Linked DNA regions of Homo sapiens: regions 2 and 3 are each linked to region 1. The links come from fine-mapping of genetic effects on plasma protein levels. Region 1 holds a variant in brackets. A gene starts in each other region. All regions are shown on their reverse strands.

The links. PIP is the chance, under the fine-mapping model, that this variant and not a neighbour inherited with it causes the effect. The UK Biobank Pharma Proteomics Project read protein levels with antibody pairs (Olink). The fine-mapping took linkage between variants from a reference panel, not from the people measured, so its PIPs are less certain.
Region 2: it holds the start of HAO1, and the variant in region 1 is fine-mapped to the plasma level of the HAO1 protein (UK Biobank, PIP 0.97).
Region 3: NT5E starts here. The variant in region 1 is fine-mapped to the plasma level of the NT5E protein (UK Biobank, PIP above 0.99).

The regions. Positions count from the first base shown.
Region 1 is chr4:145,896,614-145,904,613 of GRCh38, reverse strand. It overlaps ZNF827 (zinc finger protein 827), which reads left to right. Exons shown (of 15, transcript NM_001306215.2): 2 at 1,399-2,448. Among named protein-coding and RNA genes, the nearest start is that of ZNF827, 38 kb to the left of the region's middle. The variant G/T (reference allele first, on the strand shown) is at 4,356.
Region 2 is chr20:7,936,865-7,945,143 of GRCh38, reverse strand. HAO1 (hydroxyacid oxidase 1) reads left to right here and starts at 4,686. Exons shown (of 8, transcript NM_017545.3): 1 at 4,686-4,858. The coding sequence starts at 4,722.
Region 3 is chr6:85,445,364-85,453,642 of GRCh38, reverse strand. NT5E (5'-nucleotidase ecto) reads right to left here and starts at 3,560. Exons shown (of 9, transcript NM_002526.4): 1 at 3,165-3,560. The coding sequence starts at 3,503. RefSeq lists a silencer at 3,498-3,767.

The DNA of each region.
Region 1 (8,000 bases):
CTGGCTTCAGTGCTGTTCCATGGGCGTGCCAGGCATGTTCCCACAGCAGGGCCTTCACAGTGACTCTCCCTCTGCATGGTCAGTTTCTCACTTCCTCCAAGGCTTTGCTGAAATGCCACCACTTCTGTGAAGCTCCACCTTGACCACCTGTTTAAAATTGCAGCTCTCTTCCCACCCATTACTCCCCATCCTCCCTGTCTTGCCCTATGTGGTTTTCCATGGACTTATCACCCTCTGGCATGCTATGTTATTTACCCATTTATTAATTTTGTTTGACACTTGTCTTCCCCCACTGGAATGTAAGCTCCAAGAAGGCAGGATCTTAGTTTTGTTCATTCTGAGTGAGAGTTCCAGGGAGAATTGTAAGGAAGAAACCTTTGAGTCGGGTGTTGAAGGGTAAGTAGAATTGGACAATCAGCTTTTCTGGGGAAAGACATTTGAGATGGAAGGAATATCGTGAGAAAAGGTAGAAAAGTGGCAGGGCTCATGAATGCCCCTAGAATGGCAAGGAGCCTGCCTAACTGGTGCATGAGAGTGTCATGGGAGTGGTAGTGGTGGATCGATAAATAGAAAATAATGAAAAGACACTCTTAGTGGAGGGAGGGAACACATTCCTAACCGCTGCCTGTGATAATATGGCAAGCATGTTGATGACTGGAGTTGAGGACCCTCAAATAGGTAGCATGCATAACATGGGAGGTACTGTCACAGTCAGAAGCCAGAAATGTGAGTAGTGTTTGCTAATGAAATCTGATTTTATACGGTACTTGACTGTTTTCAAAACATGATCACATGCTTATTATGATATAAGCTTTATAACAACTGATAAAGTGAGTTAAGCAGGTATTATGTACATTTTTGATAAGCTTTTTAAAAAATGAATTGCATCTTATATTGGAGGAAGTGGATTCTCAGACCAGCTCAGTGACTTGCCTAGAGTCACGGAGTTAGAAAGTAGGGAAGCGCTTCCCACTGTCTGTGTCTCACGGTCTGTGTCCCACTATGCCAGGCTGCCTCTCTCATTCTGTCACAGTGCTAAACATACTGTGCTGGTTTTTCACAAGGATATAGGCTTCTTTCCATTTCCCCCCATTCCCTGAAAATAGCAGTTTCTTCATCCAATTACCTCTTTACCAGATCCATTTTTCTTTTTCCTTCTTTTCCCTTTCAACTTATCTGGACTACTTGGGTATGTTTTTACCTTTGCCTGTGTAGCATTTTTTACTTTTTTCAGGCTTCTGCCAAGTCTGTCTGACATTCTGTTAAGGCTGTTGCCACCTTTCATTTGGTTCTTGGGTGGAAGGGAAGAGAAAGCATGTCATCACCTCCATTTGAATGTCTTGAGACTTACTTATTGTTCACTTTGGGAGTAAACCTGATCTTCTTAATTCTCCCCAGATGTTAGTAGGCAGGAAGAGGCGGAGGGAGAGCTCAGTGAAGGAGAACACTGGTATGGAAACTCTTCAGAGACTCCGTCAGAAGCATCCTATGGGGAAGTCCAGGAGAACTATAAGTTGTCTCTGGAGGACCGGATCCAGGAGCAGTCCACGTCCCCGGACACCTCCTTGGGAAGCACGACTCCCAGCAGCCACACGTTGGAGCTGGTGGCACTGGACAGTGAGGTCCTGCGAGACTCACTGCAGTGTCAAGATCACCTTTCCCCGGGAGTGTCTTCTTTGTGTGACGATGACCCAGGCTCCAACAAGCCCCTGAGCAGCAATTTGAGGCGGCTGCTGGAGGCTGGTTCCCTCAAACTCGATGCTGCAGCCACGGCTAATGGCAGAGTGGAGTCCCCCGTAAACGTTGGCTCGAACCTCTCCTTTTCCCCGCCTTCCCACCACGCCCAGCAGCTCAGTGTTCTGGCCAGGAAGTTGGCCGAGAAGCAGGAACAGAATGACCAATACACTCCAAGTAACCGTTTTATATGGAATCAAGGTAAGTGGTTGCCAAACTCAACCACCACCTGCAGCTTGTCTCCGGATTCAGCCATCCTAAAACTGAAAGCTGCAGCCAATGCCGTTCTGCAGGACAAATCTCTCACCAGGACTGAGGAGACCATGCGATTTGAGTCCTTTTCCTCCCCTTTTAGCTCCCAGTCTGCCAGTTCTACCTTGGCCGCTTTGTCCAAGAAGGTCAGTGAAAGAAGTTTGACTCCTGGTCAGGAGCACCCTCCACCGGCCAGCTCCTTCCTTTCCCTGGCTTCTATGACCTCCTCAGCGGCCCTTCTGAAGGAGGTGGCCGCAAGGGCTGCGGGCAGTCTTCTGGCTGAGAAATCATCGCTGCTGCCTGAGGACCCTCTACCGCCCCCGCCTTCAGAGAAGAAACCAGAAAAAGTCACTCCGCCACCTCCACCGCCACCTCCACCACCTCCACCACCACCACCACAATCCCTGGAATTATTATTACTCCCAGTTCCTAAGGGAAGAGTTTCTAAACCCTCCAATTCAGGTATGGCATCTTTTCTTTCAATCATCGTGTAAGTCCTTTAGACTATAAACTGCGATGTCTTATTCATTGCTTTTTTCAGTTGGGTTCCCCATCTGATCTGAGGCAGGAATAAAAAAGCAAGAGCACAACAAAAATACTTTAAGTAAGCAGCATAGTAGTCTTTCATGTACGTATTACACAAAGACTTCACAAATAGCTTCACTTTTGAAAGGTAATGAATAATCTTAGAGACATACAGCATTCCCTCCCTTTCATACAAATGATTTTTTTTTCTTACTAAGTTCAGGCTAGGTCCATACAAGATATATTTAATGGGAGAAGATCAAAGCATCTTTGTCATGGAGTGCATGGCATCACTGAACATAAGGGGAAAAAAACCCACTGCTTTTGAAATAGTGGACAAGGGAGAGCCCACACTCCTGCTGCCTCCATCACAAATGGACTTTTGTACAATCAGGAACTACTCTGCCCTAATTTATCACACCATATACTTTTATGTTAGCATTTTTATTACTTTTTGTGGAATTTAAGCCCTTTTCACGTATCCTATTCTCCTACAATTTCTTGTCCTATAAGAACTCAAAAAGATTGTCAATCAAACATAATCAACACATTTCCTGTGAATGCTTTATTTAATTCAAATCCAATCCAATTTTGAAGGAATGTGCATGTGGAAAATTTGAATCCTAAGGTTTTTCTAGTGGAGGCAGTCTTTCCAAAGGAGAAATCGCTGTCATATAGGACCTTAGCATTCACAATTATTCATCTGAGGGAGAAATTTAGTCACTTGAATTCTCACAGTGGAAACACCATTTCTTGTTCTGGTTTGCTTTAAAATTGTGTACATGATAAATACACGTTCCTGGGATGCGTGTTGGGGTTTCAGATGTCTCTTAAGGATATCCTGCCAGACTGGAGCAGGAAGTAGGCTATGTGCATCCTCATCGGTACAAACATTGCCATCGTGTGTGTCTAGCCAACTTTTGATTATTTTCAGCAACAATGATGAAGAGGGTTTGGAATGGCAAATAATTGACGGAACGATCACAGTTAATGTCAATTTGATGCATTTATGACAAATTTCCATTTAAATGGCTGAGTGAGCTATATTCACTAATTATAAGTACTTCAAAACTTGAGTCAACAGCAGAAGACAACGAGGAAAATGGGTATCTGGGACTTTTATGACTCTTGGTGATCCAAACTGTTCTCTCCAGAGTTTCTGAAATGTCAGTAAAATCCTAGGATGTTGTCAATTCTAAGTTCCACTTCTCCTCTCTTCTCACCTGCCATCTGGTGAAATAAGGAGAGAAATGGGTAAAATTAGGAAACAAGGAGAAGAGCAAAGGAGGCTGGGGTAGTTCTACGATGGAAAAAATCACTCCTGACTTATAGAAATTTCATTTAGGGATAGCAGTAGAAAGAGAGGTATGGCTGTATATAAAATAAAATTTTAGGCCGGGCGCAGTGGCTCACACCTGTAATCCTAGCACTTTGAGGGGCCAAGGCGGGTGGGTCACCTGAGGTCAGGGGGTCAAGACCATCCTGACCAATATGGTGAAACTCCGTCTCTACTAAAAATACAAAAATTAACCAGGCGTGGTGGTGTGCGCCTGTAATCCCAGCTACTTGGGAGGCTGAGGCAGGAGAATTGCTTGAACCCGGGAGGCAGAGGTTGCAGTGAGCTGAGATCGTGTCACTGCAGTCCAGCCTGGATGAGACTCTGTCTCAAAAAAATAAAAATAAAAAAAAGAAAATAATAATTATATATATGTATATTCTGCATATCTAGTTATTGAATAAATGTGTGAATGGCGTTTCTAGTATACAATTCATCTGGACATTTGTTAGTTGGGAAAGCTTATGCAAAGTTAATAATAAACTTTAGTTGATTGAAGACTTGGAAA[G/T]AAGTGACTGATAAAACCATGTTTCCTGAAGCCCAGACTGTAGCAGCTTTGTCATATTGAAGTCTCCGGTATAACCAGCAATGGTTGTGAATATAATTTTTTTCACTCAAACGACCAGATACATGTAAAGATGAGAAAGAGGTCATGAGCTTCCAGTGAATGGTAGACTTTTTGTTTGTTTTGTTGTGGGAAATACACCCAAGGGAAAAGCTATGTTCCTTTTTGGTTTAAATACACTTAATCTATGCCAGCAACTCAGTGGGGTTCTCAGAATAATTGAATATGGGAGATCTATAAGAAATCGTTTCTTACTTTGCTTTTTACTATATTTATTATATTGCTGAAACACTTAATATTTTAATCAAGGGATGTTCAGAATGTTCAAACTGAAAGAGGAGGGAAAGGAACTTCTCAGCTTTGGGTTATAGAACCCTGTGCTGATTGACTTGTACCTAAGGCCTCCCCACCCCAACTCTCCCATTTCAACATGCCTCTGTTCAGTCTAAGACTTGAAGAAGCAGCTTCATCAGCAGAGTAATTTTATTTAAAAAATCTTTCATTTTGTAAAACTCATGCATGAGGAAAGATCACTGCCAAGAAAATGAGGGTCCTTGAAATTGTTACCCGAAAAATATTCCATACGTCCACGTGGGCCCATCCTACGTTCAAGTTCTGTTTGTTATTGCATGGCTTGGAAACAGAAGAGGGGATGCCCTCACTCTTTTCAGTTAAAGTGAATGTCATCACTTCCCAGCAGCCTAGCTAGATTATGGGTTAATAAGGAGTTCACAGAGTATCTAATTTTGTTATTTGTCTTTGTATCATGGGTACATGATTTGGTGTTACTGGGGATCACTGATTTTGGCATCTGAGGAGTGGAAGGAAAGGTGGATCATCTCCATCTGTCCCCTCTACCCTCCCCAACTCCCTTTTCTTCCCTCCCCCTCCCTCCCCCACCTTCCACACATTATACTGTTGGTTTGGGGGCCACCTGGGGCTGGATTGGGATGTACCTTCGATTTATCTAAGAAGCATTATGGAAATGTGGTGAGAGTCATCACCCCTGTATGGGAACATTTGTCATTATTATTCTTTCCTCTCCCTTAGAAGGAAATCTTAGTTTAATTCAAAATACGTAGGTGCATTGGCCTCTCACAGCAGGGAAAAGAGTTTCTGTTGCCTAATGACTTAAGTAAACAAATAATAACCGCCCCCAAGAACAACAACAAAAAGCCACAAAAATAAACTACACACCATCCTGATTTCAGGCAGGGCTTTCATTTTTAAAAAGCGATTTCTCAAAATGCGCAAGAAAAAAGCATATAAAGTTGATTCTTAAGTTACAAAGAGATATGTGCTAGAAAAGCTGATCCCGCCTTGAGTAATTTAGACACCACCATTTCTTTGACCTTCTTTAGGTCAAGGGAAGTCCAAACCATGAAAAAAAAATTGTCTTTTAGGTTTGGCCTTATTCTTCTTTTTTGAACAGGATTCAGTGGTTGCCAGGTCATGGTGTATTTAATTCCTTAAGAGTCCACCACTCGATAGCCTTTCCGCCCTGCAAGAGAGACGTGACACTTGAGGGGGAGGTTTCTTTCATGTGACCCTGCGCCCCCAGCACATGCTACACGGCTCCTCTGAAAGGGGACACGATAGAGGGAAGATTATGTCCGTTTGCTATAAAGATAAATGTCACACATTGACTGAATTCTCTTTGAAGCTACTGTTCTGTTGCAGCTAAGAATAAAATAAATGGTTTTTATTTTAAAGACAAAGTTTCTTGTAGAAGGCCAACAAGATTCCCAGGATGCCAGACTCCTGTTTAAAAGAAATAACAGGGAGAGTTTCAGAGAGAGGGTCTCCAAAACATCTTATTGTACTGAATAAAATGTAAATATTCTTAGAAGCAAACCTGGTCTCATACAGCTGAGAACTAAGAATATTTCCTGTGGGTCAATACATAGGGGGTTTCTGGCTGCTGTTTTCTTTAATATTTATGTGATGTTATTAAAATTATTGCAAAAGCATACAAAGTCCGGAGAGGGAGATCACCTCTCCTGATACTCCCATTAGGCCCGTGGTTATTATAATAAATCTTTTGTTTGTGACAGCGTCTGGCTCTATAGCCCAGGCTAGAGTGCGGTGGTGCGATCTCGGCTCACTGCAGCCTCCGCCTCCCGGGTTCAAGCAATTCTTGTGCCTGAGCCTCCTGAGAAGCTGGGACTACAGGCATGCACCACCACACCCGACTAATTTTTGTATTTTTAGTAGAGATGGGGTTTCGCCATGTTAGTAAGGCTGGTCTCGAACTTCTGGCCTCAAGTGATCCACCCTACTCAGGCCCCCAAAGTGCTGGGATTACAGGCATGAAGCACAGGACCCGGCCATAAGTCTCAATAAGCCTTAATCTGAGAATGATCCCATATATGAACTTGTTTAGAAAATTCACTTTTTAACCTAGATTTTTAGAACTGTCCGTCATTAATCTCAATTGTATTTTCGCAGTGATTTAAACTTAGTATGGCTATAGATATCAGACTTCTCTGAATATTTACTAGTTAAAATAGGCATTAATAAAGTCAGCATCCATAATAACAGATAAACCCAGGGACATCCATTGCTAACCTAGGCTTTTTTTGTTGCCATGAAATAGCATTTGAGACACATAACAAAGAAATTCTGTTAAAAGATTTAAAGTCCATGTGTATTGTTAGGAAGGAAGATAGGTCGTCATCCTACACAGATGTGTACCGGTAATGTTAGTAGGTCCAGAATGGAGACCGTAATAATGCACAGATTATGCAGATCCAGGGTCACCAGGCATCTTGAACTCCTAAGTTTATGGTAAGGTATATACGCAGAAACCACCCAGTTGCAAGTTATATTGACTTGCTGCAAATCACCACATAGGATTGAACAACAGGAAGTTTGATTTCGAAGCCTACAAAACAGTTACATTTGTTTTAAAAATACCTTTGTGTTAAAGCAGTTAAGCAACTACAACCCTCCGTGATTTAAAAAAATTTTTTTTTAGCCCAATGAAGTTTTGTTGTTGTTGTTTTGTGGATTTATGCATAGACAATAGGTAGAGCAGCAAACCAGAAGTGAAGAGATGAGCTGTAATCTCAGTTCTGCCACTAACTGGTAGAGAGACTTCTCAGCATACTACCTCAGTTTAGTATCCTCATCTGTAAACAGAGCTGGATGATCTCCAAGGTCTTTTCCTGTTTTAGAATTTCTTGCTTATATTTACTACTGTAGCTCAGTGTTTTAAAACTCTGTTTATTAACTCAAAACAAACTCTTTTTTTTCCAATTTTTGAGTTTAATATGTTGCTTCTTAAAATTCACTATCAAACCTCCCATAAGATCATCTCTGCTTTGGGCAGATCTTGTTCATTATAAATGGTTCAACATATATCTCTGTACTTTATTAATGATGTAGTCATTCCATATGCATTTTTAATATAAGCTGCTCCAGGTTCATTTTTGGAAATAGCTGAGGTCTAAGTACACGAACATTTATCTGTTTATCCATCCATTCATTTAGAATGTGTATTGGGGCACTATGTGAAAGGCATACATACACTCTTGTCCTAACACAAGTTCCATTGGGACTTACTGGCAGCCTCCTGCGTCTTTTCCT
Region 2 (8,279 bases), not on the chromosome of region 1:
ACACTGCAGGCTACTACAGTGGGGAGGGAGGGAAGGGAGCATGGATTGAAAAACTACCTATTGAGTACTGTGATCACTACCTAGGTGACAGGATTTGTACCCCAAACCTCAGCGTCATTCCATATCCCCAGGTAACAAAGCTGCATATGTGCCTTGGTATCTAATATAAAAGTTGAAATTATAAAAAAGAATAAGCCTCTTAAGAAAAAAGTCCCCCTTTACATTCCATCTCGCCTAAACCATGGTCCTCAAACAATGTTGTGCATCAAATCACCTGGAAGGCTTGTTACAGCACAAATAGCTGTAGAGTTTCTGATTCAGTAGGACTAGGATGACGCCTGGAACTTGCATTTCTAATGACTTCCTAGGTGATGCTGATGCTGCTGGTTCAAAGTCACACTTTAAGAACCAATGGCCCTTATGTGTCTTCTTTAGTTTCACCGGGACTTGACCTGATTAACAATATTAGATTGCCTCTTCATTCTAATCACATTAGTTGCAGGATGCTAATTATTTTAATAAATGCTAAATTTGCACATAAATATGCAGATAAAAGGTCATGCTTTAATCTTTACATTTTGAATGAGTTATAAGCCATAATTAAGATCCCTTTGACCACATTTTCATAATAATTTTGTTAACTATGAAACTGAATTATTTAGAACTTGCTTATCTTATTGGCAGATTTTTCACATCCTAATAGCGATTTTAATATGTCATTTCATCTGTCACTACATTGATGCAAAAAGTAAGCATTTGTGAACTTTGAGAATAAACCTATGTACTATAAAATTCTATGTCAATTTTAACAGCATATGACCCTTCGATTAAATTAAAACCCTTTATTTTTTATATACTATATCATTACAGCTGGGAAAGACCTAATGGCTTATATTTTTGGTTCTGGTTTCATTCCCAGTTTGCCTAATAGGCTGCTATGGAGCCTGCATCTTTGGTTTCTAGTTGCTTTGTCAGTAGTAAAAATAGATTTGATCCATATCCTCTCTCCTGCTCCTTTTGGTGACCCACAGCATGGGAATTTCATATAACAGGTGACCGTGCTTTGTGTTCACTCTGTGGCCACAGGTCAAAACTAAGTCACAGATTACATACTGAACCCCTTAGTATTCTTCTTCATCTTAGACGATTTTCCTTCTCCAAAATAAACTCAAAGGGTATTTACCCACTGTAAGATATGATTTTACACCCTATTCTTTCTACCATATAAAGCCTCATGAAGCATGGGATAAGGCAATTTTCAAAAAGATCTGATAATATAAATATACATTAGTTATGAAAGACACTTCTCTTGGGGGTGTAGAAAATAAACTGGACTAATTGCAAATCTAGCAAAGAAATACTCAAAGGGATTAACTTACTTGAAGAAAAATGGCAATGGCCTTCCAGAAGCTCAAGAATCCCTTTGTCCAATCTCTCGTACATTAGGGAATTGTCCTTATATAATTGACATTAAACAAAAGTCTTTTGGAAAAATGTGTTGGTAAAGTATATTGAGAAGATGAGGGTGGGTAATATTAATGAAATACAGTTTATCATTGAACAATATGGGGGTTAGAGGTACCGACCCACCGTGTAAAACTTTCGACTCCCCCAAAACTTAACAACTAGTAGCCTACTGTTGACTGGAAGCCTTACCAATAACAAAATCAACTTACACATATTTTATATGTTACATGTGTTATATACTGTATTCTTACAATAAAGCAAGCTAGAAAAAAGAAAATGTTATTAAGAAAATCATAAGGAAGGGAAAATATATTTACTATTCATAAAGTGTAAGTGGTACATCAAAACTCTTCATCCTTGTCATCTTCACATTGTGTAGAATAAGGAGCAGGAGGAAGAGGAGAAGTTGGTTTTGCTGTCTCAGGGGTGGAAGAATCTAAAGAAAATCTACATATAAGTGGACCCTTTTTTTTGTTCAAAGGTCAACTGTGCCTACTATATGCCAGGTGTTTAAGCGATGATATATCCTTTGTCCTCACAGTCACTCCTCAGGGTAGGGATGAATATTTCTCTTTGTCTTGGTTTGAGTTTCACCAAAAGGAGACTGAGAGGCAAGCATTCAAATGCAAGGAGTTTATTTGGGAGGTGAAGGGAGCACCAATGAGGAGTAGGGAAGTCTGATTAGAAGGGAAGGCAGCCAGGCCGGGCACGGTGGCTCATGCCTGTAATCCCAGCACTTTGGGAGGCTGAGTTGGGCGGATCACGAGGTCAAGAGATCAAGACCATCCTGGCCAACATGGTGAAACCCCATCTCTACTAAAAACACAAAAATCAGCTGGGTGTGGTGGCATGAGCCTGTAATCCCAGCTACTCGGGAGGCTGAGGCAGGAGAATTGCTTGAACCTGGGAGGCGGAGGTTGCAGTGAGCCGAGATTGCGCCACTTCACTCCAGTCTGGTGACGGCGTGAGACTCCATCTCAAAACAAAAAACAAACAAAAAAGGAACATAGCCAACACAGCATAGATTATCAACCAGCTCACACTGTGGATAACTGAAACCTGCAATGTAGAACATAATCCTAGGAGTAATCCCACCAGAAGAATGAACTTTCTTGGGCTTGTGATTGAGGGCTGTTCCACAGGGTATGGAACTATACTATTTGGCATGCTATGTTTATGAAAAAAGCAGGCTCCAAGTTCAAGAGCAAGTTCTCCTACAGGTGTAGGTGGTTGGAATGTAGATAGTGAACAACTGGCAAGCAGCTTTAAGTGGCGGCTCCTAGATTGAAACTCAGGTCTAACTGTAGTTAAAATCATTGCTTTCTCAAGCATATCCTACTAATGTGAATCTTCCCCAGGTGTTCCATGATTGAGTGAAATTATAGACTGAGACCACAGGTCTTTTGGAATAGCACTTCCCTATACCCTCTCCAGGGCAAGATAAGACTCTAAGAATTAGTGGTAGGCCATGTGCAGTGGCTCACACCTGCAATCCCAGCACTCTGGGAGGCCGAGGTGGTTGGATCACTTGAGGTCAGGAGTTTGAGACCAGCCTGGCCAATATAGTGAAACCCCATCTTTACTAAATAAAAATACAAAAATTAGCCAGGCGTGGTGGACATGCCTGTAGTCCCAGTTACTTGGGAGGCTGAGGCAGAATAATCTCTTGAACCTGGGAGGTAGAGGCTGCAATGAGCCGAGATCACACCACTGCACTCCAGCCTGGGAGACAGAGAAAGACTCCATCTCAAAAAGAAAAAAAAAAAGAATTAATGGTAAACCTAAATGCCCATTAAGAGACAAATGGATAAGGGAAATGTATAGATATACACACAATGAAATATTATTCAGCCTTATAAGAGAAGGGAATCCTGTCATTTGCAGTAGAACCCAGAGAACATTATGCTAAGTGAAATAAGCCAGGCACAAAAGGGAAATTATTGCATTATTTCACTTATAGGTGGGATTTTGTTTTAAAAAAGACTTCAAATGCACAGAGCTAGAGAATGAAACAGTGAATACCACTAGTGGGAAGCAGGGAAGAGGAAAAGGGGTGATATAGGTCAAAGGATACAAAATAGTAGACACGTAGGATACATAAATCTACAACAGGGTCCCTAACCTTTTCGGCACCAGGGACAAGTTTTGTGGAATACAATTTTTCCATGGGCAGTGGGGGTAGGTGGATGGTTTTGGAATGAAACTGTTCCACCTCAGATCATCAGGCATTAGATTCTCATAAGGAGTGGCGCAACCTAGATCCCTCGCATGTGCAGTTCACAATAGGAGGCGGAGCTCAGTCTGTAAAGCTTGCTCACCGGCTGCTCACCTCCTGCTGTGCAGCTTGGTTCCTAACAGGCCACGGACCAGTACCAGTCCATGCTGGGGAGTTTGGGACCCCTGGTCTAGAGAGCAAACGTGCAAAATGAGGACTAAAGTTAATAAAATTGTATCATATTAGGAATTTTTGTTAAATAAGTTGATTTTAGCTGTTCTTGTCATACACACAAAAAAGTAATTACGGGTGAGATGATACATATATTATATTGGCCTCCCTACTGTAACCATTTTTCTGTGTATATGTATCTCATAATATCATGTTGTAAACCTCAAATATACAGAATGAATAAAACAATTAGCTGTCAATTTGGCCTTAATGTTCCATGTTAAAGCCAAATGTCTATGTTTGTAATCAGCTAAATTTTATATTGTGCAGAAGCCCTGAATTTCACGGATGCCCCATATTTCATGGATGCCCCGTTCAGTTCATAAGCTCTTGTTTACATGATTTGTGCATGATCCAAATGTGGAAAGAAAATGAGTGGGCAGCCTATTCTGGGTATCAAGCAAAGAGCACAGGCACAGACCATGTGCAATAAGCAGCCTTAGGCAAAACTGAACCAAGAGTGGTTTCATACAGGTATTCCTCTAAGTCTTTAATTTTTTACTTATTCCTTTCCCCTTTTTAATGTGATAGACACCTAATCACCTTCTGCTGCCTTCCCAACCTCAACTTTGGTGTTCTTTGGCAGATAGTGACTTCGGTGTTCTTTGGCAGATAGCCTACAAATGAAATTTCAAAGGCTAAGCATATAATGTTTGCTCACTTGATGTAAGCAACAGAGAACTAAATCTGAACTTTGGCAAAAGTCTATTAATAATTGACAAATAACAGAACAGTGAGGATGTAGAAAGCAATACATTAAAAAAAAAAAAACAACGAACTCCATCTGGGATAGCAATAACCTGTGAAAATGCTCCCCCGGCTAATTTGTATCAATGATTATGAACAACATGCTAAATCAGTACTTCCAAAGTCTATATATGACTATTACAGGTCTGGGGCAAATGATGAAGAAACTTTGGCTGATAATATTGCAGCATTTTCCAGGTAAGAAAATTTATTTTTTAAAATCATGTTTTAAAATTACACAAAGACCGTACCAAAATAAGATCTCCTAGTTTTACGTTGGTGGTGTGTAATTATTTGTTCAGATTTGTGCTTAGTAGAGAGGGAAAAGTTCTTGGGGCTGTAAGAAATCTTGGGCCTTTAAATTGTTAAAAAATATTCCAAGCCTGTGAATCTTGAGGAACTGACTGCAAAAGCCAAACCTATGTTACTTCACTTGGAAATATGACAACAATTAATTTAACTACATGTAAAAATAGCGATAAATTCGGATGACTTTTCTTTTTCTTAGTATGACAGTAAATGCTTATGTTCATGGTGTAGGAAACAGCATTAAATGCCAGATAACCATCTTATCCGGATGAACCAGACTGGATTGTTGGCTCAAATGTTTTCTTCCTGCTGGCTTTTCGTGTTATCATTCATTTTGATTACTGTTGTCTAAACTTTCACTTTAGATTTCAATTTGTCTATGCAGCATTAATCTTTCAACTTTGCTGTTTCATCTCTCCTTCAAAGCACTTCATCTCTCTTCCCAAATTAGTTTTCCTTTGACTTTCATATTTCAAAGCACAAGATGGTGGGTGACATGGTTTATGTTTTCTGTTTGTAATAAAAACAAGAAATAAAATCATTTCAAAGGGTTTTTTTTTATAGCAGTTACAAAAATGGTTTATTTGCTGGAGCAAGAGAGGAGTGCCTTCACTACACTACACTCAGTCTCATCCATCTAACATTATGGCTGTTAGTAAAGGCAATCGGTATTGTGGGTACTCATTGATGGTGATAAAGACAAAAAGGCAGAAAATATGCAGGGGGAGAGAATTAGCCTTCCTCCCTGATTTCTTCTTTAGTCTACAACAAAATCACTCAAAATCAGTTTTCCATATTTAAATTAGGAGAAATAAAATTATCCTGGCCAAGGTGGTCTCTGGTAGGCAGCACTGATTCACCCACAAATCCATGTAGAAGACTGAAAATGGCAATGGGGTGAAGGATACGGCCTCTCCCCAACCCTTTCAAGCCTTGACTTTGTCTCAGGTTTTGCCTGGAACCCAAATGAGCTCAACAAATGCCAGGGAAGTCATGGGAAGGGAAGTTGACTGAGAGTAGAGGGGCTTAAAATTCTGCATCATTATTTACTATTTTGGACTCATTTAAAAGTTTCTGCTCTTGGAAGATGCCCCTTCTTGGGCCGATATTAACTTTGTCCACCAAAATTTGCCTATGAGTGGTCTCTTGAAAACACTTTAACCCAAATAGGTTATTACAACCAAGGAAATTTCAGACCCTTGACAGATTTATAGAGTTAGTGTCTCAGCATTGCTAGACCTCCAATGCTCAAGTGATTATTTATTTCATTTGTATACAGCTTTCCTTACTTCTTAATTCCCTTTGTCGCATGCTAGCTAATTAACTAGAGCTAATTAGGAGTCTCCATGAGCTACACTGTGTACTACATGCTGAGGACAAAGCAGTGAGCCAGACAAAGTTCCTGTCCCTAGGAACTTACATTCCCCTGGATGCATATCAGCCTCCATAATGCTGTTGGGTTGAATTGATGCAAAATGGGCCCAAAATAGTTGGCCAAGTGGAGGTCTCAGAGAGGATGCAAAGGGGCGCCCCAAAGCAGATGGATCACCTATGCAACCCTTTAAAATGTAGAAACTTTGGGAGACATAGAAGGCTTGGTGACTTCTAAGTTATGAACTGGAAAAGTGCCTCATGCCTTATGTGAATTACATGGTATTCAAGTGAGTATTCCCATCCTATGTGTGTACCGAGTAACTTAGGGATAGGACACAGATAATGAAAATGAATTTGCAGTGTCACCTTTTCCATGAACCTTGATCATTCTCTTTTGTTCAGCTTTAAATTAAAAAAAAAAATCAATCAACTTTCTTTGGAGGACAGCTGATGCTATTTTATTATCAACTAGTTGAGTTTTTATTGCAATACATTTTGCAATGTGTCCTCTTTTGCTGTATGACTCGCTAGGTGAACCTTGATTCCTCACACTGCATCATGTAGCTGGTCACGTGAAACTAAGAATAGAAATTCTGCCAGGGTTGTGGAGACTTTGGGTTGATGGCATGAAGGAAATCAACCTGAAATTTCACATTCTGATTCTAATGAAAAGTGCAAAACAATCAAACCTCAGATAACCCATTGTGATACAAAGCCAGAGTATTTCAAACACATTTATGAAATTTATACACCTCCCCATCTCGCAAGTACAACAAAAGGTCATTCACCGTGACAGCTTTTATTTCTCTGTACTCAGCTCTGATAATCACATTTTGGAGTTCTGGGGACATGGACCACTCATGTGACCCAGCAGTTGCTTGGAGATATTTTTGGGTAAGACTTCAGACTAATATTACTGTGGCAGTAGAAAAAAATGTTTAAAAGGACAAGTAAATGGAACCACCCAGAACAAAATTTCTTACGGTGGTTATAACAAAACAGGGTAAATGTCAACTTGCTACATTTTGCATGGCTGGAATTGATTGGGATTAATTCAACGAAGAACAGTAATTTGTTTCTCTTACACATTTATTCAAAGTAGCCTTCTCAACTATGGTCTTCACGTTGTTGTAGCTTTTTTTTCTGAAATTATCAATGATGGAAGATGATTAAACAATTTCGACACTTAGAAGCCCTCATGATTTCAGAAAAGGAAACTCTTTTCTGCTGCGTTACCTATTGAGACTGAAGATGGCATCATTTTCTTTTAAATAACAGATGGGTAAAAGTGATGTCATTCTTTCACTTTAATATTTGAGAAGTGATATGAAGTTACCAGTGACATTGTGTTCTCATAGGCATAAATGTCACAAAATAATTTATCTAGTATCCACAATAGGTGAATAAGGTGTTTTTGCTTTATATATTTTAACTGTTTAGAGTAAAAAATTAATGTGGAGAAAATTGGAATGCAGTATTATAGGATTACACAACTTACAAAACATGAATCCACTATGTCCAGTTAGTGTGATTCAGAAACAGCATGCAGTTATAAAGCTGGGTGAGGCATGGGTGTCTTCCTTCAACAGGGCAGCTACTTTGTGAGGAGTGTATATATCATTTGATTTTTTTATAAGTTAAATTTGAGGCCCCTGTTAGATGTGAGGGTGGGCCAAAATTCCTGTGAACAGATTCTCCCCGTTACCCCGCTTCCTTTACTCTGGCATCTCATTTTCTATCCTTTGAAAACGGTTTATTATTCAATTGGTTCAACTGTTTGCCAGTTGAACCAATTCTTTTTCCAAAGTGGAGGCCCAGGAAAGCACAGTCCGAGAATATAGTGAGGTGCTATTTTATGTATGATTGTGGGAAATTTACTTAAATTTGGAGTGGGGTTGGGCAAGGCTTGGAAAGCTAGTGAGCTATCTGACATAGT
Region 3 (8,279 bases), not on the chromosome of region 1:
AGGGGACCCTAGAGACCTGCTCAAAGCTACCTTCCCCACAGCCTGTCTTGGTGAGAATCTCACCTCTGGAGGTGGATACCTTCAGTTTTGTGCTGTGGGGAGATTTCATAAGTCTGCTCAATGAGTAACTATAGCAAAAATAGTTTAGGCAATGGTACTTAGGTAAGATGGTAGAGGGCAGGCAGGTGGTAGACTGTGCCAGGCTGTGAGAATCAGATAATCTGATGCACAACCCAAACCTTCCCTTCCTCACAATTCCCCTCCTCCCCACCCAGGGCACATGAAACTCACTTTCAGTGAGCACCAGCAGGGATTATCTCATGTATTCCTCACAAAACCTCTGCAAGATGGGGGTTATCACTCCTGTTTTACAGCTAAGGAACATGAAGCTCAGAGAAAGTAACCAGGCCAAGCGCATACTGTCAGTGCTTCCATGCTGTCTTCCTCGTGCCTCAGGGGACAACAGTCCTTCCACTGAGACAGCTACACTAACTGGAGAGTTTTGCCATCCTCTTCCCAGTTTTCTGCCTAGTAGTGGTTCCAGGGGGTCTCCAGGATTGCCCTGGGTCCTCTACAGCAATCAGGATTACTCCAGTAGGTCTAGAAAGTGTACACCTCCTTGGAAGTTCCTGCTCGAGGGGACTCCTGTGTTTTAGCTGGATTCTAGGAAATTCCTCTTTGTCCTCCATATGCTTCAGTCCTTTTATGTGGCTCCTTTGAACTAGGTCCAGTCTCCAGGAAACTGGAGATGCCCCTCCACAACTGTTTTCCACCCTGATTTGAATCCCCAGTGTCCTAGGAATCAATATGCGGTGAGTGGTTACAGTGGAGGAACGTTTATACCACAACAGCAATAAATTCTCTGAGGGTTAGTATAATATAAACAATTGACAGTGAAACATCTGTGCAATACTGGAGTACAGCAGAGCTTTAGCACATGCTTTAGCACTACAGAACTGGGATTTTATGCACGTCAAATCATGTTTGACACACCCCCAAACTGCACAGAGTAAGTCCTGAGGACACAGCCATCTAACCTTGCCATGTGATCCGCTCCCAATCTTTACCCCCTGCCAACATTACGTAAGTAGCCTATTTTTCCTCAGAACCCAATTCAATTTTCTTGAGCAAAATTTGAAAGAAAGTAATTTCATCCAACAAAAAGGATTCTGAACAAACACAGAAGAGATAGGCTGTAACTTACAGCAGTTTACTCAGGCCTCACCTAGATGTCCTGTCATAAACATTTGATACCATGATTAACACCAGGAGCTCAACTAGACTTACAAGAGGGAAATATTATTAGGGAAAACTAGGAATTCTTCATTCTTATTTTTCCACTAAAAAGGGTTCACACAATTGTGGAGAAAAGAGTGTCACAAAAAGTAAAGTTTACAAAGTCGTGGTTTATATGCAAAATAAAACAAACACATGTAAGTTTATTCTACCCTTCTGGGAGGAAGTGGAGACACAGGGTAGCAACAACTCAATTCTACAAATATTTATTTTGTCATTACTGAGTGCAAAGTATCAGGGAAGTGTAGCTGTGGAATACCAATGCTTAAGAGACCACAGAGTTCTTGAAACCCACGATTCTTCTTCAAATCCAGATGTGTGTGAGCCCCACCTCATCAACTCTGAAGGCTGAAGGATCAGCTGGAATTTCTGCTGCAGGGTGTCCCTGATAAGCTCAAAAGCATCAGAACGGAGGGAGCTTTCTCCCCTTCTCTCATCTCATTAAAATGAGCTTTCTTGTTGTGGGGGGTTGGGGAGGGACCTTTAAAACCAAACAATGGTGCCCTCTTATCATCTTTTCCTGTCCTCCTTTCTCCAAGTTTCCAGAGGGGAAAATAAAACCAAACAAACCCCTCAGCATTGTGCTCTCCTGACCTCTAAGCTCTTCTCATATAAAGTGTACTGTTAGCCTTCTGTATCCCAGCCTAATCACACTTCCCTTTCCCTTCCACACTTGTGGACTTCACAGATTTCTCTGGACGTTTCTCTGGAGATTTCTCAGTTCTTCCTCTTCCAAAGCTCTTTTTTCTTCTCCCAAGTTTCTCCACAGTCTTGCTGAATCCCTTTACTCAAGGCTTTTACACAGGGTTAAATTTGGGTGGTGGTTTTATTTTTTTTTTAACCACCATATATACATCTTGGTTGTACTTATTTATTACTGTGCAACCACCTCTGCTCCCTTTCTAGAATTTAGTGCAATAGAAAAGGCATTACCTTTAACCTAACATTTGGGACTTTGAACTAAACTTTTGCACATGTTTTAAGAGCCCATTATCTCTTAAGTTGGACTCTTCCTAAATCTCTGCCGCCAAACCTACTTTATTGAAATCCTTTGAAACCCAAGTCTTTCCACATTTTGGCTCTCTCTGAAGTTTCTTTCTTTCTTTCTCTTTCTTTCTTTCTTTCCTTTTCTTAACCCTATATTATAGTGTCTGGTAATAACAACATATATAGACACCACACTATGTGTCTGGTAATAATATAGAGACCACACTATGTGCACTATGTACAATTATAATCCTTATTTTTATACAGGATAGAACTGAGGCAAGAAAGAGTAAATAACTTGCTCAAGGTCACATAGAAGGTAATTGAACAGAGAATCTACCCCAAAGCTGTGAGCTTAATTACTCTCAAGCTCCGGGGTCAAAGAGATCTGGTGTCCATTCTTATCACGTCTCCCTTTTTGCGGGGATGGTGCCTGTTAATTTATTCAGCTTCTTCGACGCGGTTTCCCTTTCAATAAGATTGAGATAAAGCATTTTTCGAAAGATCTAGATTGAGATAAAGCATTCTTTGAAAGATCTAGCAGTAAATGAGAGCTGCGTGAGGGATCCGATTCAGTCCCTAGCTCTGGATAACTGTCAGTGCTTCTACGCACCCCACCTTAAGCCCCTCGCAGGCAGGACTGGGTCCTGCTCCTCTAAATACTCCCATCTCATAGTGGGGGCGCAATAACGTCCGTTTAAGACGAATCGTCCAAGGGACTTCTATGCATCCAGCTGGCACACTGGCCGGAGTCTCACTTTATCCCCACATCTCTCCGCGCCCTGGACCTAGGCTTGCCACACTCTGCCATCCGCTGCTTTTCCAGCCCGGCTCCTCTCTCAGTCCGGGACTACTATCCCGGGCGCGGGCTCGGGTCTTACCATGGCATCGTAGCGCAGGGCGTTCATGAAGTGCGCCACCTCGGCGCCCTTGTACACGGTGAACCAGATAGTGCCCTGGTACTGGTCGCCGGCGTCCAGCAGCAGCACGTTGGGTTCGGCGCGGCGGATCTGCTGAACCTTGGTGAAGAGCCGAGCCACGCCACCCATGCAGCGGCTGGCGTTGACGCACTTGCTGGAGTCCTCGCTGGTCTGCTCCAGCCGGCTGTGCACGTCGTTGGTGTGCAAAATCGTAAGCTCCCAGGCGCCAGCCGCAGGCCACAGCACCGCGCCCAGGGCGAGGAGTAGCGTCGCGGGCGCCCGCGCGGCTCGGGGACACATAGCTGTGGCGCGTGAACTGGGTGCGAAAGCGGGCGAGCCGGGCGAGTGCCGGCGAGTAGGGGCGAGCAGCTAGGGCCGGGGCTCGGTGCCCCGGCTGGAGGGGCGGGGCCCGGGTCAAGGCCGGGGCGGGTCCTTCTTCAGCCTGGAGGCCGGCTTGGCGGCCAGGCGCAAGTTCGCGACGTCACCCGATCCGACCCTGGTACCCGGAGCGGCCCTGGCGCGGCTGTCGGCTGGCACCAGCTCCCTGCAGGAAGAGTGGAGAGGTTGTTCCCGGCGGGGAGCGGGTACCGGCCGCATCCCGGCCGGACCAGGGAGCCTGGGCGCCGGCAGTTCGGCTGCTGGTGCGCCGCTCTTTCGGGGGCGCGAGGAAGGAATTGGAGGGGTCCGCCCCGCGCCTGGGTCCTCTCTGAGTCTCGCCTCATTCGAGGCACGGGTTTTTCTACAAAAGGAATGTATGGTTTGTGGTTGCGCTAGCTCATCACTTCAAAGAACCAAAGAAGGAAAAGAGAGGGGGCGGGAAGAAAGATGAGCGAGCTGAGGGGCAGAGAGGAGGAGTAAAGAGAGGCCGGGCAGAGGAGCTCCTTGCAGTTTCGGGCTGTGAGAGCCGAAGCTCACTGAGATGTGACGCTTCCTGTTGGGTTGAGAACGCACGAAGTCTACGATGCTTAGACAAAAAAATCTCAGAAACTAAGAAATCATTCGAATCCAGTTCCTTGTTTATTCACAATTAAAACCTTAGTGATAAAACAGAGGCGACGCGCGGACAGCTCCTGGAAGCAGAAACACGATTGGGGTAAAATCCGGCAGCTATCAGGACGGGAAGGGATGCTGCCCTTCTTTGCTTTTCTGGTCTTATTTTATTTTATTTTATTTTTATTTTGTCGCGTGTGCTTTCGGTGTCGCAGTGAAGTCATAGCCAAATACAATGTTAGGAAGATTTTCCTCTATGTTTTCTCCTAAGAGTTTTATAATTTAAACTCTTAGACCTTTAATCCATTTTGAGTTAATTTTCATATGTGGTATGAGTCCACATTTACTCTTTTTCATGTGGATATCCAGTTTTCTTAGTACCATTTGTTGAAAAGACATTCTGTGCCCGTTTTTAAGACATTGACCTGAGGTTCGGAGATTGTAAATCATTTGCCAAGAAAGGCCATGCAGTTTGGGAGCAGCAGTGCCTGGGGCTACAGAAGACCCTTGCTTCTGGGACACCCTCTAATGTCATGCTTTGCAAGGTTTTGCTCTGTCCCTCTTTGAGCACCTGCTAGAAGCAGGTAAAAGAACTGGTAGTTTTGCTGTTTTAACTTAAAAAAAGAATGATTTTAGACTTACAGAAAAGTTGCAAAGGTAATAAAGGGAGTTCCCACATACCCATCACCCATATTGCCTTATGTTAACAGCTTATATAACCAATGAAACTAAAAACTTAACAGTGATACGAAACTATTAACTGTGTTACTGATTTTATTTTAATTTCACCAACTGTTCCACTAATGTCCGTTTTCTATTCCAGGACCCAATTCAGGATACCATATTGCAGTTAGTTTTCCTGTGTTCTTAGCCTCCTCTAATCTGTGACAGTTTCTCAGTCAGTTGTCTTCAAAAACCTTGACACTTTTGAACAGTACTGGTTTCTGTATACTATCCCTCAGTTTGGGTTTGTCTGATGTTTTCTCATGATTGGACTGAAGCTGTGGATGTTTAGGAAGAATGCTACAGAGATTATGTGCCTTTCTCATTGCCTGGTATCTGTGGGTACACGGTATCAACATGACCTATCACTGATCACTGGGGAACTGATCATTTGTTGTTTCTTGTCTTTTAAACCTAAGCCACTGCAATAGTTTCTGAAATTCCTGTTCTGGGGATGCTACCAGATTTCTGCTTCAATATCATTTCCATGCCATTTGTTTTCATATACATCTAAAATGGCCTTTGATTGTTTATTGCACCAAGTTCAAGCTTCGCAAACTGGCATTTTGAAGTCTCATTTTATCCAGCCAACTTTACCTTCCACTGTTCCTCACACATTCCCTTTGTCCTCATTTCTTCTCTCCAAACCACCATTTCCAGTCTGTCCTTAGGCCAAGGCCCGGGGTTCCTTTAATTTCTTGTTCAAGTCAACATGAAGTTCCTTTGACTTCTTCACACAGCAGTGAGTTTTTCTCTTTTCTAAATTTCTGGTCAGTTCCTACAATCTCACTTTAATGTGGTTTTACTTTTTTTCTCCAGGTGTTTAATGTGTGTTTTTGGTCTTCTCCCCAAGCAATGGAAACAGAGTTGCTGCTTCAGTGGTAGTAGTACTTGCAATTCAAGTAACACTAACTTAAAATCTACTTTAGACACAGTGGGCGATAGTATGAAAGAACCAAGAAGGATTTCGGCTGTCCTGGAGCTGATAATGCTGCAAACAAGGTGAGGGTGCATACAGTAAGTAGCTGCAAAGCCATGAGGATCATAGAAAATTTCCCAAGTCCATGAGGAAAGAAAAATATACAGGCAAAAATTTACATACAAATCAGGGCTTTATTTATTGTTTCATCAGTTGATTAGACTTAAGAAAGTAATGAAGAAAATGTCAAAATAATGCAGAATAAACTTAAAAGTGTGTGGTGCTAATATCCATTACATTGGGAATAGCCCCCCAAATTGAGAAAATATTATTTCAGTACATATTAGAAAACTATTTTCTGACTCAGGAAAAATCTCACTCACATCATTGATGAACAATATATCTAGTGCTAAAACTAGGTTTTAATTTAATGACTATAGCCTGTACTACACTCATTATATAATAGGGTGACAAATACTTTAATAATAGATTACATATTACATCCAATAACAATACGTTATTGATTTATTAGAAAATAAATGGGTATATAACTCCATTTGTCAAATCAGTTCAGCCGGAACCATAGGTTGGCTATGGATTGCAAAAGTTCTGCAAAAATCAATGAAAGCAGTCTGTAGGAACCAATAGTAAAATTTACAAATAGTAAATTGTGTGTAACAATCTTTTATATCAGAAAAATTTATAATAAATATGTATGTATATAAATGCATGCGTTTTTCTTTAAGAGTCAGTTGTTGAACATTTACCAGCACACCACTGGAGCTATCTAATGGATAATATATATTTAAGTTTCTTTTGTGATGAGAACCTATTTTATATCTTATCACAAAGTCTTTAATAAAATATCAATTTTTCTTTAAATTTGCTGAGATAGATTTATTTAGGTGGGCTGAATTAAAAATCTGAGACCTGCTTTTAGGTGAATGCGGGGTGAAAACAGGGACCGGCCAGGCGCGGTGGCTCACACCTGTAATCCCAGCACTTCGGGAGGCCGAGGCGGGTGGATGACCTGAAGTCAGGAGTTTGAAACCAGCCTGGCCAATATGGTGAAACCCCATGTCTACTAAAAATACACAAAATTAGCCAGGTGTGGTGGCGGGCGCCTGGAGTCCTAGCTACTTGGGAGGCTGAGGCAGGAGAATCTCTTGAACCCTTGGAGGCAGAGGTTGCAGTGAGCTGAGATCACGCCGTTGCACTCCAGCCTGGGCAACAAGAGCAAAACTCTGTCTCAAAAAAGAAAAAAAAGAAAGAAAACAGAGGGACCTTGTCATAGGCATCCTGGCACATTTGGATTATGCTGTTAAATGACTATTAATATTTCATCTTATTGGTAAGAAAACTTAATGTGATATTTAACCTGGCTGAATAATTTGCTTAAGATCATTCATGTCCAAGTAAGTGGCAGTCAGGTTTTGAGCACAATTGAATTCCAATACTCAGGTTACATTGTTAAGTCTTCACAAAAGCATGAAGGGTAAATATTATTATCTGCTCCCCACCCCCACTTTTTCTGTGGTGAGAACGCTTAAAATCTACTCACATAGTGATTTTCAAGTATGCAATACATTGTTATTAACTATAGTCACCAAATTATACAGTAGATCTCTTGAATCTATTCTTCCTATCTAGCTGAAATTTTATATTCTTTGATCAGCCTCTCCAGTAACCCTTCAGGCAGCCCCTGGTAACCACCATTCTACTCTCCACATTTTTGCTTTATCCATTCATCCATTGATGGACAGTTAGGTGGATTCCAAAGCTTGACTATTGTGATAATGCTGCAATATCATTCTCCTTTTATGGGTAATAAAATGGAGCTTCAACATGTTAAATTAATTGCTCAAAGTTCCACAAGTGGGCAGGATTTTTTTTTGTCTTTTTATATTTGTAACTCTATTTCACATAAAGGCTCTCTGTCCACTCAAAAGGTTTACCTCTTGCTGTCTGCCACCTGTTATGCCCAAGGAGTAGTTCTTGGTCTGGGGACTTCTGAGAAGGCTACAAAAGCTCAGAATCCTTTCTTGCAACTTTGCCGTGATCTCTTTGTGGCCATAGGAGGACCATCAGTCTATATTGGCCTCTTTAATAAGCCACAAATAATAAGAGTGGTTTAGATTCGAGTCAATCCAGGACACAGAATGTATGTTTTCAGAGGCTGCACATAGAATGCACAGGGGATGAGGAAACTGGCCTCTTGCACAGTCACTGACTCTGACATCTAAGCTCAGACATGCCTCTTTCTCCAGCACTCTGGGACGACAGAGGTTCAATGTGCGGCTTCTCTGTCACAATCTACTACTCAGCTGCTCACAGCAGAAGTACAAGCAGAATCTTTCTCCCCTTCCCCATTAGAACTTGGTCCCTTCACGCAGTGGACTTCCTCCCTCCCACCAGATTCCCAGAAGCAACATGGAGTCTGAGTC